Linked DNA regions of Homo sapiens: region 2 is linked to region 1. The links come from fine-mapping of genetic effects on gene expression. A gene starts in region 1. The other region holds a variant in brackets. All regions are shown on one strand. Distances are between the middles of the regions.

Evidence for each region. PIP is the estimated chance that this variant, and not a neighbour inherited with it, causes the effect. A credible set is the group of variants that fine-mapping cannot tell apart.
Region 2: its variant is the best candidate, but not a certain one, in a credible set for the expression of NHSL1 in fibroblasts (GTEx, PIP 0.64).

What each region holds. Positions count from the first base shown.
Region 1 is chr6:138,497,425-138,501,821 of GRCh38, reverse strand. It overlaps NHSL1 (NHS like 1), which reads left to right and starts at 2,328. Exons shown (of 8, transcript NM_001144060.2): 1 at 2,328-2,589. The coding sequence starts at 2,532.
Region 2 is chr6:138,545,690-138,550,086 of GRCh38, reverse strand. It overlaps a transcript of NHSL1 not described here. Among named protein-coding and RNA genes, the nearest start is that of NHSL1, 48 kb to the right of the region's middle. The variant G/A (reference allele first, on the strand shown) is at 1,786.

The DNA of each region.
Region 1 (4,397 bases):
GCATGCAAATACTACAGTATTTTATATCAGGGACTGGAGCATCCAAGGATTTTTGTATCCAAGGGGCATCCTGGAATGGATACAGAGGAACAACTGCGGCCACTTTATATCACACTTAATATTGAGTGAGAAAGGAAATTACCCCATGCAAGATTCTTCCTACAGTTCATTTTCTGAGAGGAAAGAGCACTTCTCTAGTCCTGGGGGATGGAAATGTGTCTCACAGCCTGAGGAATCTCTCTCTCTCTCTTTAAAATGAGAGCCAGTGAGATTCATTACACAGTTTTGTTTTCTTGCCATTGCCTCCTTCAAGGTTTTGCTCAAATCTCGACTTTTCACGAGGACCACCCTGACTCCTACGATGCTGCAGCCTGGCCACCCTCAAACCCCCTTTTATGTTGCTTAACTTTTTTATTTTGTCTGTTGCACTCAACTCCTTCTAATATACCACAAAATTGTAGTTCAGTGTCAAATAATTTAAGCTCCATGAGGGCAGGGATCTCACCTATTTTGTCCAATGATGTATCCCAATGAAATGAAAGAGTAGCAGTTAGCATCGGTGCCTGGTATTTATCTTTCTGATGAACGAATCTATATTCAGATGCCATTGTTGAGCACATGGAAAGCTACATGCTATGGAGGGTTGAGCATAATCAGAGTTTCTTGAAAGAACAATTTCTGTTTTCACTGGACATTTGCATGGTGACACTTAACCTCAAACACTTGTGGATTGTGCATATGAGTGTTTTTGCCCACAACTCTCCTTGTGTCTAATGCAATGAGCAGAGCGAGGTCACTCTTGCAGATAAATTTGTTTTCCAAAGGGGAACTTTGCCCGCTAATTTAAGGCAGCCACATAATCTGACTTACAGGCTCAGTCGTTTCTCATTTGCCATCTGGCAATTTAATTACTTTAAAATAAAGCTATATATAAAATGAAATAACACAAATTGGAAATCTGTGATAATATGTATGATAAGATGGTAACGTTTCTATGTGTTCTTTTGTTTTGTTGTTGTTGAAAAAATAAAGGGCATAAAAAGACCTGAGAAGGAATCATTTCAAAGCTTTCCCCTATGTGTTCTTTTGTTTTGTTGTTGTTGAAAAAATAAAGGGCATAAAAAGACCTGAGAAGGAATCATTTCAAAGCTTTCCCTAGACAGAGCCCCTTATATAAATTTTATTCTTTGACTAAGAGCCTTTGTTATAAACTAAATGTTTTGAATTAGTGGATTATTACATTTTTCCATTGAGTTATAAGTCTGGCCCAAAGCTATGAAATAAGAGGTTGTCTAAATTGTTTCAAAAGTGTTTGGCCATGAAGTGGAACTGGGCTGAGATGTGAGGAAGATTCTTTTCCTTTTTCCGTTGTCATAGTATTTCCGGATCTATATTCTCCTCTTTTTTCCTATCCCTTTACCCCTGGAATATGTTTTTTCAGTGCCTTCTTATACTCTGTTTCTGATTTCTCTGTCTCTACTTGTGCTTCCCTAGTTCTCTGTGGTTAATTGCCAATGGGCAAAAGAACCAGCACTCTGGATGGTAGATTCAAGTTAAAGAGTAACTCAGATAATGTTTGTTTGAGACAACATTGAGGGAAGGGCGATTATGGAATTCTGAAAACCAGGAGCCTAAGTGACAATTACATATAAAATAAAGATTAAAATGATTAGGGTACTTTATCTAATTTATCATTTGGAGTGGGGAAGTTGTATTTTTTTTGGTGGATTTTTTTTTTTCTTGATTGTTGTGGCAGCTAGATGCAAATAAGATCATGCTTTGGAACACACAATGCTGATTCTCAATCACTGGCAAAGAAGGGTGAGAAGACAGAGCATCCTAATTTGCACAAAAATGCAACCAAGTCATCATTTGCAGCTCCTTGGAGATTCTATTCTAAAGTTTTACTGCTTGTACAAGTTCCTTTGGTATCGGAGGCAGAGCCTGGGGCGTGGTTGGGAAACAATAGTTTGGTTTTTTTCCCCCCTAAATCAGTTCAAATCCCATATACCCTGAATTAACTGGAATTGCTGTCAGACTTGGCAGCTCCTGTAAAAGATCTGGGTGTTCATAGGGGCCTAATGAAATGGGGAACACATTTGTTTCATCTTGACTTCCGTAGAGGAAAGTCTGCACTATTTTTGTGGGCTCAGAGAGGAGGAACTTCTGATCTGTTGGAGAGAAAACTGAATGAATGGGCACTGAGGCAGAAAGCCTGATGTGGCTGTCATGCAAATAAGAACCGTGATTGGCTTTCTCTTTCTTTCAGCGCACGATGTCACTGGCTGCTCTCAGCCTTAAAGATTAGGTTTCAGTAGGAGTTTTTCAGGTTCAAGGACTGTTAATGGTTTGTAACTGCCTGACAATAAACTCAACCTCAGTTACATCAGCCTGGGCAGATGTCTAAGGATATGAGACCGGGGGAAGAAAAAGTTAGAATCTGTAGCAGAAGGACGAAGCTTGCCACCTGCCTACTGGGCTGAGCTTTTAATGTGATTTACATTTCTAAGCTCTATGTAGGTGCCCTGGAAATGGTGGTCTTCATTAATGCAAAGATTAAGTCTTTAATTAAACTTTTTAAGAAGAAAAGTAAGTAGTTCCTTTTCTCTCTACTACCTATTGTGTGCATATGTTTCCATATGTGTATATGTCCCTGTGTGTCTGTGTGTGTGTGTGTGTGTGTGTGTCCATGTGTGTGTTTTAGGTCCTTCGTTCTTTTGTGTGAAGAAATTAGAGTGTGAAACAGCGTAATAGGCATGAGTTAAACTCTACTCTATACCAGGTTGTTTAAATACCTCAGACTTTTGTAACTCTAGGACAGTATTATGTGATCTTAGCATGTCTTATTTATTTATGATTGGGGTTTTAAGTGAATTCACTTCTTCTGTGCTTTTCAAAAGAAGTCCTTTGAAGAGGGGGGAAATTCTTGTACTTAATTTATGTTTCCCTTGATATCAAGTGTATGATTTTTTGATTCTTTGGATAAATATGCAGCTGAGGTAAGGGAGCCTCTGTGTAATGTATCACATATTTCTGGTGGAGATAATCCCCTGAAACTCCCTGGCACTCTTTGTTGTGTATTTAAGAGCTCGAGCACAAACTGTCTAGACTGATCAGTGATTGTTGTAAGGTACAGAACTTTTGTGATGTGGCTTTATTGTGTACTTACCATTGACTTACATTTCTTTAATGTAGGTGCTTCTTCATTCTCTTGAAAATAATAATTTTTATAACTACTTGGCTTTGTTTTTACATAGTCGGTGGTTTATTTTATTTTAGTTTAGTTTAGTGTTTGGACCAGTGACTTATACTGGATAAATGAACATGGGTAGGGGCATTGGTAAGAGGAGCTTTGGAGAAAGCTACAAAGAGCAGCACGGTGGGCTGATTTTCTGCAGCTCCTTGCTAAAGGCTGCCTTTGGATGAACAGATTAAAAGTGGCCCTGGCGAGAGTGAGGAACACGAGGGGAAGAGACTTTTTCATAGGAGCCAGTTGGTAGCTGTGCAGTGGGGCCGATGGTGCGATTGATGGTGCAGACACGAATGCCATTACTTGGATTTGATTTGAAATTGTCGAATAGGAAAAGTTTCCATTTTCAATAGTTTCTAACTCTGAAGTATGGTAACTCAGTCTTTAAAATAAATGGACATCAGCACAAAACACTGTGATGAACTCTGGCTACACTTTGGGGGGACATATGGTGAGTTTGGCCCAATGCTAGATTCTTCTGAAACACAAATGAGGGTTAAGTCAGGTCTTTGTGGATTTTGTGTATTAAGATTGATAGTTGTATGCACCATGCAAAACATTTGCTCAACAAGAGTTTACATGAAATACTAGGTGCCAAATTCACATACTGCTTTTGTCAAATACTAAGCAGAAAGCACAATGGACATTTCTGTTTTTAACTTGATATCTAGTTCTCAATGTTTATTTTCTCATTTAGCAACTTACGGAGAAGGTGGGGTCCTTTTGAAAATGAGTTATCCTGTTCAGATTCATAAGATTGTAAAATTTAGTAGCTGCAGAAAAGATGGTATGTGAGATGAGCGCTAGCATGTGGCCCAGGTTTACAAGAGACAGTGACAGTTCAAAGTTTGGGGCCTCGTTAGAATAATTTTTACTGTTCCTGCCACAACCATGTTTTACCTGAGTTATTTCTTGAGCTAAGTACTTTATGTATATTGGTTCATTTGATCTTTAGAGTAGCCCTAATAACTGTGCTATAGAGTATGTTTAGTGAATTTTAGATGTGCTCAAATGGATTTAATAGTTTATGCGTGTGTTCTCATGTTACTTTGAGAATTCATTTTATGGTCTAGTTTCCAGGTACATGTTATGTTGGGGACATGGATACGCCCAGTGTGAACTCTATAGCATAGATCAGAGTCAGGAA
Region 2 (4,397 bases), 48 kb before region 1:
TATATTTTTAGTAGAGATGGGGTTTCGCCATGTTGGCCAGGCTGGTCTTAAACTCCTTACCTCAGGTGATCAGCCTGCCTTGTCCTCCTAAAGTGCTGGGATTATAGGCATGAGCCACTGTGCCCGGCCCACAAGGGATTTTTTTTTAATATGATAACTTTATATTTGACATTAAGAAAAACCCCTTTTGTTGTCATTGCTCGAGGTTAATGCTGTGAAGTTTTCAGATAGTGATACCTATAATTTCAGCAATTTAATAGAGGTTGGTATGTGTGCTGTTTAGAAGTGCTATAACATTTTGCTGCAGTAAGTACAAGGGTATGGAAAAAATAGGTTTTAAGCCTATGTAAACATAAATTGAAGACGATTTAAAAGAAAAACAAATCATGCCCATCTCACGTAATTATTACCTTGCTAAATGTATAAGTTCCCTAGAGTCACTGTAACAAATTACCCCAAGCGTGGTGGCTTAAAATAACCAGTTTATTCTCTCCCTATTTAGGAAACCCGAGTTCTAAAATCAAGGTGGTAACAGAGTCCTGCTCCCACCAGAGGCAGTATGGGAGAATTCTGTCCTGCCTCTTCCAGCTTCTGCTGGTTCCAGGTGTTCCTTATCTGTGACAGCATCCCTCCAGTCTGTGCCTCCATCTTTTATGACCTTCACTGTGTCTCTGTATCCTTTTCTGTCTCTCTCTCTTTTTTTGAGACAGAGGTTTGCTCTTGTTGCCCAGGTTGGAGTTCAATGGCGCAATCTTGGCTCACTGCAACCTCCGCCTCCCAGGTTCAAGCAATTCTCCTGCCTCAGCCTCCCATGTAGCTGGGATTACAGGCATGCGCCACTACGCCTGGCTAATTTTGTGTTTTTAGTAGAGACAGGGTTTCTCCATGTTGGTTAGGCTGGTCTCGAACTCCTGACCTCAGGTGATCCACCCGCCTTGGCCTCCTAAAGCGCTGGGATTACAGGCATGAGCCACCATGCCCGACTCCATTTTCTCTCTTATTAGGACACTGTGAGTGGATTTAGGGCCCACCTTAATGCAGTATCATCTCATCTTGATTCTTACCTTCCTTAACTTATGAAGACTTTATTTCCAAATAAGTTCACACTCTGAGGGTGGACATGAATTTGGGGTGGACACTATTCAACCCACTACATTAAATTATATATGCTTTAACTTTAGGAGAGTAGCTTAATGAGATGGCAGTAGGCAAGAACTACCATTGATCATTATTAATTTTGTGTATTCTTCTGTTATGTGACTTACCACACTGAATTATATTTATTCCACTCATCTCTTGCACTAAACCACAAGAAGGCAAAGATTCTTTTCCTGTGACCTGACATAATGTACCTAATAGTATGTGTGTGTATTCATACCAAAAATAAAAAATTATTGAGTTAAGATGGAACCTTAGAGTTAATTTAGTCCCCTTGTTCTATTCAGTCCTCACATTTACAGGCCATGAACTGCTGTGAGACTAACTATTAGGGCATCCAATCTTTTGGCTTCCCTGGGGCCACATTGGAAGGAGAAGGATTGTCTTGGGCCACACATAAAATACACCAACCGTAATGATAGCTGATGAACTTAAAAATTGCAAAACAATCTCATAATGTTTCAGAAAGTTTACAAATTTGTGTTGGGTCACATTCAGAGCTGTCCTGGGCTGCATGTGGGCCACAGGTTGGACAGACTTGAACTAGATAGTCATATAGATATGACTGGAATGAGATTCTCTTTACTTTTCAGTCCACTATACTTTCCAGCATATAAAGTCATCTCT[G/A]TTTAAAAAGGCTTAAACTGCCAGGTGCAGTGGCTCACGCCTGTAATCCCAGCATTTTGGGAGGCTGAGGTGGGTGGATCACGAGGTCAGGAGTTCAAGACCAGCCTGGCCAAGATGGTGAAACCCTGTCTGTACTACAAATACAAAAAAAAATTAGCCGGGCATGGTGGCGGGCACCTGTAGTCCCAGCTACTTGGGAGGCTGAGGCAGCGAATTGCTTGAACTCAGGAGGTGGGGGTTGCAGTGAGCCAAGATCGTGCCACTGCACTCCAGCCAGAGTGAGACTCGGTCTCATTAGCCTGTGTTCAAAAGTCTTAAGTCTCTAAGGTAGGAGTTCCTTTCTCTCTCTGTACAATTTGAAAAGTTAAATGTAACCCATGAAAATATTTTCAGGAATACCTCTGTAATTCGTAAATTACATGGGAGAGACTACTCAGAACAGGAGAGGACAGAGAATAACTCAGATCAGCCATGGAGAGAGTCCCGTGGTGAGATGGAAGAGGCTAATCAGCTGGTCTGGTTTTGATCTTGTTTGTTAGGTGAATCAATCACCTCATGGTTTACACAAATGAAATGAGCTATGAGGTTCCCTCCCATTCTGTTCTAAGAGTTAATATCAGGCCGGGGATGGTGGCTCACGCCTGTAATCCCAGAACTTTGGGAGGCCGAGGCGGGTGGATCACAAGGTCAGGAGATCGAGACCATCCTGGCTAAAATAGTGAAACCCTGTCTCTGCTAAAAATACAAAAAAACATTAGCCGGGCCTGGCGGCGGGCGCCTGTAATCCCAGCTACTCGGAAGGCTGAGGCAGGAGAATGGCGAGAACCTGGGAGACGGAGCTTGCAGTGAGCTGAGATCACACCACTGCCCTCCAGCCTGGGCAACAGAGTGAGACCCTCTCAGGGGAAAAAAAAAGAAGAAGAAGCGTTAATATCACTGTTCATCATTCCCCATGCAGTTTTTTTTTTTTTTAATCCTAACTAGCTTCTGGCTAGAGACCTCTTATATATTCTTGTGATCATAGAAACTAGTACAGTGACTTCCTTATGGTAGACAACATATTTATTACCCAGGTGCTATTGGTGATTCATGGTGACAGGGAGCAGAAACCCAGCTGGGATATGCTGCACCGTATGTTGAAAACCAAAAGAACATAGAGCATCCTTACTGTGTGGCAGTGAGCACCCCAGGACACAGACAGATAGATAGATTGGTTCTGTGAGTCAGTTTCCTGCATCCTGTGGAGTCAAAAGGAAGACCTGCAAACAGCAACGGGTCCTGTGAACAATGGCCACTTCCTGAGCCAGGAGACTCACGTCTCTGTGGGGAAGGACCACGGGGCCACTTAGGGTTCAGATGGTACTTTTCAAGCAGGGTGCTCCTGAGGCAGTATTTGTGGACTGTTTCTCATCAGGTCTGTCATAAGATTCCTTCTGCCACTTTCCACCTGTGTTTGAGAGTCCACAGTCAAGTAACCTTGAACTTGCCAGAGTGAATTTAGCTTTCCAGTGGAGGGGAAGAAATGTACTGATCTGATCACAGCCACAGTACAGTTAGAAATTCTCGTACTCTAATGCTGCATTTGTTTCCTCATTTGAAAAAATGACATTGCCATAGAAGTGTAACATGCTTCACATTTTTATCCTAATACTCAAGTGGTTTTCTTGTTTTCTGTTTGTTTGTTTTTTGTTTTGAGACAAGGTCTCACTCTGTTGCCTGGGCTGGAGTGCAGTGGTGTGATCATGGCCCAATGCAGTCTCGACCTCTTGGTCTCAAACAATCCTCCCTCCTCAGCCTCCCAAGTAGCTGGGACCACAGGTGCATGCCACCATGCCCAGCTAGTTTTTTTTTTTTTTTTTTTTTTTTTTTTTTTTGTAGAGATGGGGTCTCACTGTGTTGCCGAGGCTGGTCTCAAACTCCTGGGCTCAAGTGATATTCCCACCTTGGTCTCCCAAAGTTCTGGGATTATAGGTGTGAGCCACCATGTCCGCCCCGTTTTTAAATAGCAGTATGTAGTAGTAATGATAGCACTTACTTTGTGCTTATGATTTGTCTGGGACTGAAAGAGCATTTCACATATATTCACTCATTTACGTAGACTCAGACAACAGAGTGCAAAGTTTCCTATTATAATGTGCAGTGTTAATTATGTACCAGTATATGGTGTGTTCTATATTAGAAAAAAAAGGGGAGCATGTGAACAGAAAAGGAATAATGAAGTCAGTGAATAGTAAGTCATAATTAATAGCAAAAGGTTAAACTGAATTGAGTGATTTCTTTTTTGTGTTGTTGATCACGTGAAGAGCTGCATCCGCTGTGGTGGAAAATGCTGAGAGAGAAGCACAAACAAATGGGCTCGCCCTTGGGCTGATCTGCACTGGACTATATGAACGGTGACTGCTAACCCCTGGCTCCTTTCCCCTTTCAAGATGATTGCAGGCTGATTCCATGGTGTGAAATAACCCAGGAGAGATAGGGAGGTGTCAGCAGCACAGCCCAGCAGGCTGGGGATTGGGCAGTGGCTTCCTGGAGTAACAGGCGCTGGCTGGCCGCCCCGCTCTCTGGCAGTGAGCGCTGAGGAGGTGGGCTGGGAGACAGCTGTGCCTAGCACT